Linked DNA regions of Homo sapiens: region 2 is linked to region 1. A link means that fine-mapping ties the variant in region 1 to the expression of a gene that starts in the linked region. Tissue or cell type: whole blood. Region 1 holds a variant in brackets; the other region holds the start of a gene. All regions are shown on one strand. Distances are from middle to middle.

Region 1 (5,265 bases):
CAGGAGAATTGCTTGAACCCAGGAGGCGGAGATTGCAGTGAGCTGAGATCATGCCACTGCACTCCAGCCTAGGCAACAGAACGAGACTCCATTTCAAAAAAAGTATGAGAGTACCTGAATAATATGCCCATTTTGCAATAGTGCTACTTTTAAGTATACATATATATATATATATAGTGGTGTTTGTTTGTTTTTGAGACGGAGTCTCAATCTATTGCCCAGGCTGGAGTGCAATGGCGCTATCTCAACACTGTAACCTCCACCTCCTGGGTTCAAGTGATTCTCCTGCCTCAGCCTCCCGAGTAGCTGGGATTACAGGCGTGTCCCACCACGCCCGGCTAATTTTTGTATTTTTAGTAGAGACAGGGTTTCACCATGTTGACCAGGCTGGTCTCGAACTCCTGACCTCAGTTAAAACGCCTGCCTCGGCTTCCTAAAGTGCTGGAATTATAGGCGTGAGCCACCACGCCCGGCCTCAATTTTCTAAAATAAAGTTTCAGGACAATGACAGTGAGACAGGGGAAGAAAACATGAAGGAATTAAGTCCTAATTACTATGTATGCATTTTTTTTTTTTTTGACAGTAGGGAGAAACCTTTTACAGATAAGTTACAAACAAAGAAAAGGCAAATAAATAATTTTGTAAAAGAAATTTAACACATTTCGAGCAAGGTCTTTGCTATCATCATCTGTACAAACTTTTTTTTTTTTTTTTTTTTTTGAGATGGAATCTCTCTCTGTCGCCCAGGCTGGAGTGCAGTGGCACGATCTCGGCTCACTGCAACCTCCGCCTCCCAGGTTCAAGCGATTCTCGTGCCTCAGTCTCCCAAGTAGCTGGGACTACAGGCACCTGCCACCATGCCTGGCTAATTTTTGTATTTTTAATAGAAATGGGGTTTCGCCATTTTGGCCAGGCTGGTCTCGAGCTCCTGACCTCAGGTGATCCGCCCGCCTCAGCCTCCCAAAGTGCTGGGATTACAGGTATGAGCCACTGCGCCTGGCCAATGTATTATTTTTTAATGCGCTGTTGGATTCTGCTTGCTACAGTTATATTTAAGAGTTTTGCATTGATATTCATAAGTGAAATTGATCTATAGTTTTCTTTTTTTCTATGGTCTGGAATTAAGAGCATTGAAATTATCTGATCTTTAAAGTAGAAGGGAGTCCGAGTGGAGCGAGCGAGCCGAGTGGTCGTGCAGTCGCGTCTCGGAAACCGGTAGCGCTTTCAGCATGGCTGACCAACTGACTGGAGAGCAGATTGTAGAATTCAAATAAGCTTATTTACTATTTGACAAAGACGGTGATGGAACTATAACAACAAAGGAACTGGGAACAGAAATGAGGTCTCTTAGGCGGCATCCCACAGAAGCAGAGTTACAGGACATGATTTATGAAGTAGATGCTGATAGTAATGGCAGAGTTGGCTTCCCTGAATTTGTGACAATGAGGGCAAGAAAAATGAAAGACGCAGGCAGTGAAGAAGAAATGAGAGAAGCATTCCGTGTGTTTGATAAGGATGGCAATGGTTATATTAGTGCAGCAGAACTTCACCATGCGATGACAAACCTTGGAGAGAAGTTAACAGATGAAGAGGTTGACGAAATGATCAGGGAAGCAGATATTGATGGTGACGGTCAAGTAAACTGTGAAGAGTTTGCACAGGCTGGGCACGGTGGCTCACGCCTGTAATCCCAGCACTTTGGGATGCCAAGGTGGGCAGATCATTTGAGGTCAGGAGTTCGAGACCAGTCTGGCTAACATGGTGAAATGCCATCTCTACTAAAAATACAGAAATTATCCGGGCATGGTGGCACATGCCTGTGGTCCCAGCTACTTGGGAGGCTGAGGCAGGGGAATCGCTTGAACCCAGGAGGTGGAGGTTGCAGTGAGCCGAGATTGCACCACTGCACTCCAGCCTGGGTGACAGAGTGATACTCTGTCTCAAATAATAATAATAATAATAATAATGCATTATGTGACTGAATTTTGAGACCAGTTGTGTCTTATTCCACCAATTAACAATCATGATTACTAAATAAAAACATGTTTGTTTTTAAAACTTGTGTAAAATATACACAGAAAAGTACACAAATAATAATAGTAAAATTGGTAAATTTTCACAAATTGAACACACTCATGTAATGGGGCTCATATCAACAGACCAAGTGTTATCAGAAGCTCTCTCATGCCTCCTTTTGCTCTTATACCCCTTAGGGTATCTGCTGTCTTATATTCCTAACCCCATAGAGCAGTTTTGCTTATTTTTGAACTTTATATAAATGGACTCACACAGTATGCATTATTCTGTGTCTAGATTCTTTCACTTGACGTTATGCTTGTATGCTTGTGAGATTCATCCACAGTATTGTATGTAGTTACAGGTTGTTCATTCGTGTTT[G/T]TTGTTGTTGTTGTTGTTGTTATTGTTTTGAGATAGTGTCTTGCTCTGTTGCCCAGGCTGGAGTACAGTGGTGTGATCATGGCTCACTGCAACCTCAAACTCCTGAGCTCAAGCAATCCTCCTTCCTCAGCCTCCCAAGTAGCTGGGGCTACAGGCATGTGCCATTGCACTCACCTAATTTTTTTTTTTTTTTTGAGATGGAGTCTTGCTCTGTTGCCCAGGCTGGAGTGCAGTGGCATGATCTCGGCTCACTGAAACCTCTGTCTCCCGGATTCATGCCTCAGCCTCTCTAGTAGCTGGGATTACAGGCGCCCACCACTGCATCTAGCTAACATTTTTTTTTTTAGTAGAAACGGAGTTTAACCATGTTGGCTAGGCTGCTCTCGAACTCTCAACTTCAGGTGATTTGCCCGCCTTGGTCTCCCAAAGTGCTGGGATTACAGGCATGAGCCATTGCGCCTGGCCTAATTTTTTTTTTAACTTATCCAGAGTCGGGGTCTCACTGTGTTAAGCAAGCTAGTTCAAACACCTGGCCTCAAGCCATCCTTCCCCCTTGGCCTCCCAAAGTGCTGGGATTCAAGGTGCACCTGGCCTTTATTCTTAGTGGATATAGTTTTGTATACAGCAATGTGACTATACCATAATTTTTTTGTGTATTCTACTGGTGTGTGTGTGTGTGTGTGTGTGTGTGTGTGTGTGTGTGTGTGTGTGTGTGTTTGGTGTTTTTTTGAGATAGGGTCTTGCTCTGTTGCCCTGGCTTGAGTGCAGTGGTGTGACCACAGCTCACTGTAACCTCACACTGGGCTTATGCAGTCCTCTTGCCTTAGCCTCCTGAGCAGCTGGGACCACAGGAACACGTCGCCATGCCTGGCCAATTCTTTAAATGTTTTTGTAGAGACCAGGGCTCCCTATGTTGCCCAGGCTGGTATCAAACTTCTGGGCTCAAGCAACCCTCCAGCCTCAGCCTCCCAAAGTGCTGGGATTACGAGCATGGGCCACCACACCTGGCCCATTCCACTGTTGATGGAGAGTTAAGTAGCTTCCAATTCGGACTAGTCTCATAGTGCTGCTATGAATATTCTTGTGTATATCTTTTGTCAAACATAGCTGTGCATTTATCTTGAACATCTACTTAAGTATGTAATTGGCAGGTCATGGGATATGTACGGTAGCATTAGGTAGATATCACTAATTTTTCACATTGATTGTACCAATTTATATTCACAACAGCAGGGCGTAAACATTCTGTTTTTTTCATATCCTAACTAATACTCAGTATTTGTCCTTTTCCATTTAGCCATTGTGTTGAGTATGCAATAGTGTCACACTGGAACTTTAATTTGATTTTTATGATGTCTCATAAGATTGAGCATGTTTTTATATGTTTATTAGTTGTTCTTGAAATCGTACTTAAAATTTGCAGGACACTTGAACTTTAAGCCTCACTTCACATTAGTAAACACACTCTTTTTAAAACTGAATGTGGGCCAGGTGCAGTGGCTCACGCCTGTAATCCCAGCACTTTGGGACGCCAAGGCGGGTGGATCACTCGAGGTCCAGAGTGCAAGATTAGCTTGGCCAACATGGCGAAACCCCGTCTCTACTAAAAATACAAAAATTAGCTGGGTGTAGTGGCGGGTGCCTGTAATCCCAGCTACTTGGGAGGATGAGGCAGGAGAATCCCTTGAACCTGGGAAATGGAGATTGCAGTGAACTGAGATCGTACCACTGCACTCCAGCCTGGGAGACAGAGCAAGACTCCATCTCAAGAAAAAAAAATGAGTGTGGATACCTTTTGTATCCTTGAGGTAATATGACCCCCGTAGAGCCCTCACTCACATCATCCAGTGTGAGTGGAGTGCGATTAAAGAATGGAGTTCAATAATTAAAAAATTAATTTCAAAATAACTCAAGTTCTCATATAGCATTTCTCAGACACTATGAAAAGAAATACATAAACTACCATAATACATGGCTAAGTCTCTCCTTCTCACTCATCCAGGCCTCACAAATGTAGCTGCCCTAATATCTTTTTTTTTTTTTCTTTTTTGGGATGGAGTCTTGCTCTGTCTCCAGGCTGGAGTACAGTGGTGCAATCTCGGTTCACTGCAACTTCTGCCTCCTGGGTTCAAATGATTCTCCTCCCTCAGCCTCCCAAGTAGCTGGGACTACAGGCATGCGGCACCACACCCAGCTTATTTTTGTATTTTTATTAGAGATGGTGTTTCACCATGTTGGCCAGGATGGTCTCGATCTCCTGACCTCATGATCTGCCTGCCTCAGCCTCCCAAATGCCTCAGCTGGGATTACAAGCATGAGCCACCGTGCCCGGCCCATCATTTTTCCAAAAAACATAGGAAGGAAAGTTATAAAATAACTTTCAGTGGGAAAGCAATTTTTATCATTACTCAAAATAAAAAATGTAAGGATAATGCATCAATCATTTCTTAATGATACATTATCATTCATTAAGAAATGATTGATAGATTATCTTTAACAGGAACACCGCATGTTCTCACTTGTAAGTGAGAGCTAAATGGTGAGAACACATAGAAAAAAGAAGGGAACAACACACACTGGGTCCTCCTTGAGGGTGGAGGGTGAGAGGAGGGAGACGATCAGAAAAAATAACTATTGGATACTAGACTTAGGGCCTGGGTGATGAAACAATCTACATCAAACCCCATAACACAAGTTTACCTAGGTAACAAACCTGCACGTGTACCCCCAAAGCTAAAATAAAAGTTGAAAAGATTGGCCAGGCGTGGTGTCTCACACCTGTAATCCCAGCACTTTGGGAGGCCGAGGCGGCTGGATCACTTGAGGTCAAGAGTTTGAGACCAGCCTGAACAACATGGTGAAACCTCA
Region 2 (5,000 bases), 63 kb after region 1:
TATTGAGTTCAGTCACATGCTGTTCAGGTTTGTGGTCCAGGTGCAATACGTCATACCATATAGCCTAGGTGTGTAGTAGGCTATGCCATCTAGGTTTCTGGAAGTACACTCTATGATGCTCACGTGACAAAATCAACTAAGAACACATTTCTCAGAATGTATACCCATTGTTAAGCAATACATGACTGTGTGTCTGTAGGCCATATATATTAATATATATATAGTCATTTGAGATCAGTCTATATACAGTGTTTTGTACCCTGTATTTTCTTTAATAATATATAATGAATACATTTTCCCCATTACTAGGTACTGAAAGACATAATTTTAAATGACTACATAGTACTCGTATGAAAATGCTATTATTTACTTAACCTCTGTGAGACTTTTTGGCTGTTCCGTTTCCCCAGGATTCTAAACATCACTGTGTCTTCTTACATGCATTCTTCCACACTTCTTGGTTGTTGCCTTAGGATATGTTACTTTAGGTAGAATTCCTGGGCTGCGCTGAAGAATAGAAACATTTTAAAGATTCACATTCTTGCTTGTTTTGCTGTTCGCCTCTTTAGGTACCATATTTTTTAGGTGTACAAAATTTATACACCTGATTTTAAGTTCCTGGGTATCAGGGTTCATACTTCTCTTAATTTTGTATTTCCTTGCAGTCCTACTTACGGGTGGCAGGGCTCCTCAAGGGATGGGTGTACCAATGACAACCATGAAAGTATTCTAAGGTATTCCCTAGGACTCCGAGAAAAAACATGCATCTTTCCAAAGGGAAAGAAGGGATTAGATGTTAGCATCCTACTCCATGTCAGATCCAGAGCACCCGGGGGAACTGAAGTTCGTGGATGGAATACAATGACACCTCAGAAAAGAAATACTCCTTTGGTGGAGGCCTTTAAACTTTTGGGGGCTCATTTTGTCTGCCTAACTCGCCCAGCCAGGGCGCAAAATGGCCACTTAGGAGCATGAGTGAGGTGCCAGCGTCCCTACAATCTAAGGAGCAGGGAGTCATCACTGGGGTGGCTGCCGCTCTACCTGTTTGCGACTGTAATAAAACACCTTCTGGAGGCCGAGGGACCCGCTTCATCCTGACTTTTCCCCTCAGTAGCTAGAGAGAAGGCGGCTGAAAAGAGGAGACAGAACTGGTGCTGAGTGGGCCTGGAGCTTCCGAGGCAAGGGAAAGAGGGAGAGGGCTGCAGTTCAAAGTCCAGACGCGCTTTCCTTCCATTCTCTTCCCTTCCTCCCTGCCCTCTGCGCCCCATTTTCCCCTTATCGTGGGTGGGGGCTTCTGATTTGCTGCGGATCCCAGAGATGGTGGGGTTCAGCCTCCGCACTGCTTAGCTAAGTTCCCAGCCCAGCAGTCCCAGCCGGGCTGTTTTCGGTAACCAAAGCACTAGGAATTAACCTCTCTCTCGGCCTCTTCCCTTTCGGTTTCCTTCTTGGGTTGGCTGGAAACTTCACCCAGACACCGAAGCAGCTCTGCCCGGCCTTTTGGCACAGGCCACCGGCCGAGGCCCCACGGGGCGCTCTCCTTCCCCAGGTGCCCCCGACTCCGATCCTGCCCTCAGGGGCTCGCCCGGGACGCGTTTTCCCAGAGGCCGCCGGGGCGGGGTGGGCTGGCTGGCGGGAAGAGGGGGCCGCGGCCCAGGCTCGCCCCGGCGCCGGCCCGGTGGGCACGCGGCCAGCCTCCGGCCCCGACTCGGTCCCTCCCGGCGCCCGCCCCAGCCGAGGCCCCCTCCCGGCCCCGCCGCCCGCCCGCGGGGGCGTGGGAGCGCCGCAGGAGCAGCTGGGACCCGGGCCGGGCCGACAGGCGGCGGCTGCGGCCTAGGGCTCCCGCGCGGCCACCGGCCTCTCCCCTCCCCCTCCCGGAAGCGCGGGGCGGGGTCCCCGGCCGGGCCGTGGGGGCGGGCGCGGGGGCCGGGCCGGGGCGGGACGCGCTCGGCGCTCGCGGGCTCGGCGGGCTGTGCGCGCCCACTCCGGCTCCAGCGGCCAGCGCGCGCGGGCCCAGGCCGCCCGGCTCCAGCCCAGCAGTAGCGGCAGCAGCGGCGGCGGCGGCAGTGCGCGCGAGGCCCTGCGCCCCCAGCAGCTCCTCCCTGGCGCCGTGCATGGAGACGCGGCCCGCCACCCGCCGCTGAGCCCCCGCCGCCCGGCCGGGACCCGCCAGGGCTGGGGTGGCCTCGGGCTCCGGCCGGCCCCGCCGCCCGAGGGCTGCGCGCGGCCCGCGGGCCTCGCCGCCCCGCGCGGATCGTCGCGGCCCGGCCGTCCCGTCCCAGGAAGTGGCCGTCCTGAGCGCCATGGCTCACTCCCCGGTGCAGTCGGGCCTGCCCGGCATGCAGGTAGGCGGGCGCGGGCCGCGGGGCCGGGATGCGCGACCGGGGCGGAAGCAGCAACTTGGCGGTATCCACACGGCGTCCCCCTACGCTCAGCCGGCCGGGGTCGCGCCGGAGCCTGGCTCCCCGCGCGCCCGGCTCGGCCGGGGGTCCGAGTCCGAGTCCCTGGGCGTCCCTGCCGGCTCCGGCGGCCGAGGTCTCCGGCGTGTGCGTGCAGGAGCCGTAGGAACCGCGGCCTGGGTCCGGATGTGGGGGTGCGGGCGCCTAGTCCTCCGCGCTCCCCTCGCCCCAACACTCTTCCGGAGCTGCAGGCCCTGGGTGGCCCTGTCCCCGGGAGAAGTGAGGTGGAGTGATGCCCTTGGAGGCCCCCGCCGGGTCCCGGGGCCCTGCGTGGTGGCCGGGTTGGCGGAGGGCCCCAGGACGCGTCCCCCAGGCTCGTCCCCCACCCCCGGGCAGGCGGGCGGGAGACCTGGGCAGGGCGGGGACGGGGAGCGCGCCTGGACTCGTCCGGGCCCGAGCGGAGTAGGCAGGGTGGAGTGGAGGAAGGTAACCGCGAGTTCCACTTGCAGTGGCTTTGCCCGGAGCCCCCGTGCACCTGCGGACCGGGGGAAAGTGCGAGTTGCAAACCTTCTGGAAGGAGGAATCCCTCGGACAGCCGCGCACCAGGGTCCCGGGCCCGGCCCCGGGACCCTGGACTTTCACTTTGAGACTTGGTTGCATTTACAGGAATTCTTCGCCCAGTAAACCTCTCTTTCGGTACTTGGTGACACCTTGGCCTACCAGTGACTTTTTGGGGAGTGGGAGAGGAGTTGAATTTCAAATTTACATGTATAAGTTAAAGGTTTTTTGTTGTTGTTGTTTTCGTTGTCGTTGCTTTTAGCCCTTTGAAAAACAAAGCTACCGTCCTTGGCTAACTCTTGTAAACTTTGTAGGCGCAGAAATGGTGGCAAAATGCTTAGGATGGAAATCTTAGGATGCAGTTAGGATATGTCATGAAAGTTTGCTCTGCCAGTTTAGCTGAGTGAACGTTAAGTGTTTGAAGAAAACCAAAAGCATCCAAGTAGATTACTGGTTGATTTACAGGTACCAACAGGCTCCTTCCCTGTGTCTTGAGGGCTGAGAAGCACAGAGCCCAGACCTGGGACTGCCTCTGGGGTCTGCTCGCCTCTTCCAGTGAGATCATCCCTCTCCCTTCTTTTTTTGAAACCGTAAAAAGAAAACTGGATTTCACTGTTCAGGTTTGAATTCTGGAAAAATAGGAACTCAAAGTTACCACTTTAATGGCAGCTAGAATTTTAGTCCAAGTGTGTGTGTGTGTATATGTGTGTGTGTGTGTGTGTGTGTATATATAAGCAGTATATATATGTGTGTATATATGTTTAAGCAGTAAATAAATATACATTTAAGCAGCAACAGTTAAGTTATTATCTTAAGAGTGACTGGGAAGATGCTTGAAGAATATTCTTTTGTCGACTCTCATTTAAGGAGCGTTGAATTTAGCATGCATTCAAAACCTAAACTTCTGCTGACTGCTGGGTAACAATCAGATGTGGTTTCTTGGTATTTTCTAAAGCCGCTTTGGTATGAATTTAGAGGTGTGTAGGTCAGAGTGAACTGGGTGAAAAAAGTAATTTCTTACTAGTCGAGCAAGAAAGGACTCTTGTAATGATTTAAAAAAAAAGTTTTATCAATATTTCCTTTAGGTTGATATTTATACCGTGTTCATCAGGTTGGAATCTAGCACAAATGCCTCACTTACTAGGTTAATTGGCCTTTGTGGATAGCGAATCAGTTTGAAAAGGTACTAAAGCCCCTTTGGCTGGTGCCGTGAAGTCAGTATCAGATGGTTACCAGGTGATATCTAGTATCTCACCTTTTCATTTTTATCCTCACTTTTTTTTTTGAGTGGGTCAGAATTCTTAAACCTTGGGAAAAGAAGATACATTTCCTTAATAACTTTGCCTCTCAACTATTATGTATCTGTTAGGTTGTGTTACATGGGAACTGTTTTTATTTTGTTTTCTCAGTATGAAAGATCTTAAGTGTTTCTCAGTGGAAAAGATGATCAGATTTTCAGCTGTTACAGTTTTACAGTTTTAGAGGTAGGTAAGTTGGCTTCTGCCAGTCATTCCTGTACCTAAGTACATCTACAGACTGTATGGTAACAGTGTATCATTTGGGGAAGAACATTCTTTTCTCCTCCCCCACCCCACAAAAGAAAAACAACAGCACATTTATTTTCTACTTCAAATTAGCAGTTGCTACTGCCCTGGGAGGCTTCCCTAAGAGTTGTTGCTGAAGATTCAATTAAAAACACACCTGCTTTCGACTGTTGTCTGCTAAATGGGAGGAGAGAAGTCCGTATCTCTTCTATGGCTTGCTCTGATAGGCCTCATAGCCCTCCCTTTTTCTTGTCTCCTGACCAGGGCTTATAAGGAGTTGGCTTAGAAAGACAGCAGAGTCTGTAATCTCAGCAGTTTGAGAGGCCGAAGTGGGCGGATCATGAGGTCAGGAGATCGAGACCATCCTGGCTAACATGGTGAAACCCTGTTTCTACTAAAAATCCAAAAAATTAGCTGGGCGTGGTGGCACACGCCTGTAATCCCAGCTACTCGGGAGGCTGAGGCAGGAGAATCACTTGAACCCGGGAGGCGGAGGTTGCGT

What was found. PIP is the estimated chance that this variant, and not a neighbour inherited with it, causes the effect.
Region 2: STK24 starts here. The variant in region 1 is fine-mapped to the expression of STK24 in whole blood (TOPMed, PIP above 0.99).

The regions. Positions count from the first base shown.
Region 1 is chr13:98,637,204-98,642,468 of GRCh38, reverse strand. It overlaps the pseudogene CALM2P4. Among named protein-coding and RNA genes, the nearest start is that of STK24-AS1, 63 kb to the right of the region's middle. The variant G/T (reference allele first, on the strand shown) is at 2,398.
Region 2 is chr13:98,574,087-98,579,086 of GRCh38, reverse strand. STK24 (serine/threonine kinase 24) reads left to right here and starts at 1,980. Exons shown (of 11, transcript NM_001032296.4): 1 at 1,980-2,342. The coding sequence starts at 2,301. It overlaps STK24-AS1 (STK24 antisense RNA 1), which reads right to left and starts at 1,832. Exons shown (of 1, transcript NR_046542.1): 1 at 246-1,832. RefSeq lists an enhancer at 1,267-1,456 and silencers at 1,547-1,696, 1,717-2,026, 2,077-2,946, 4,411-4,470.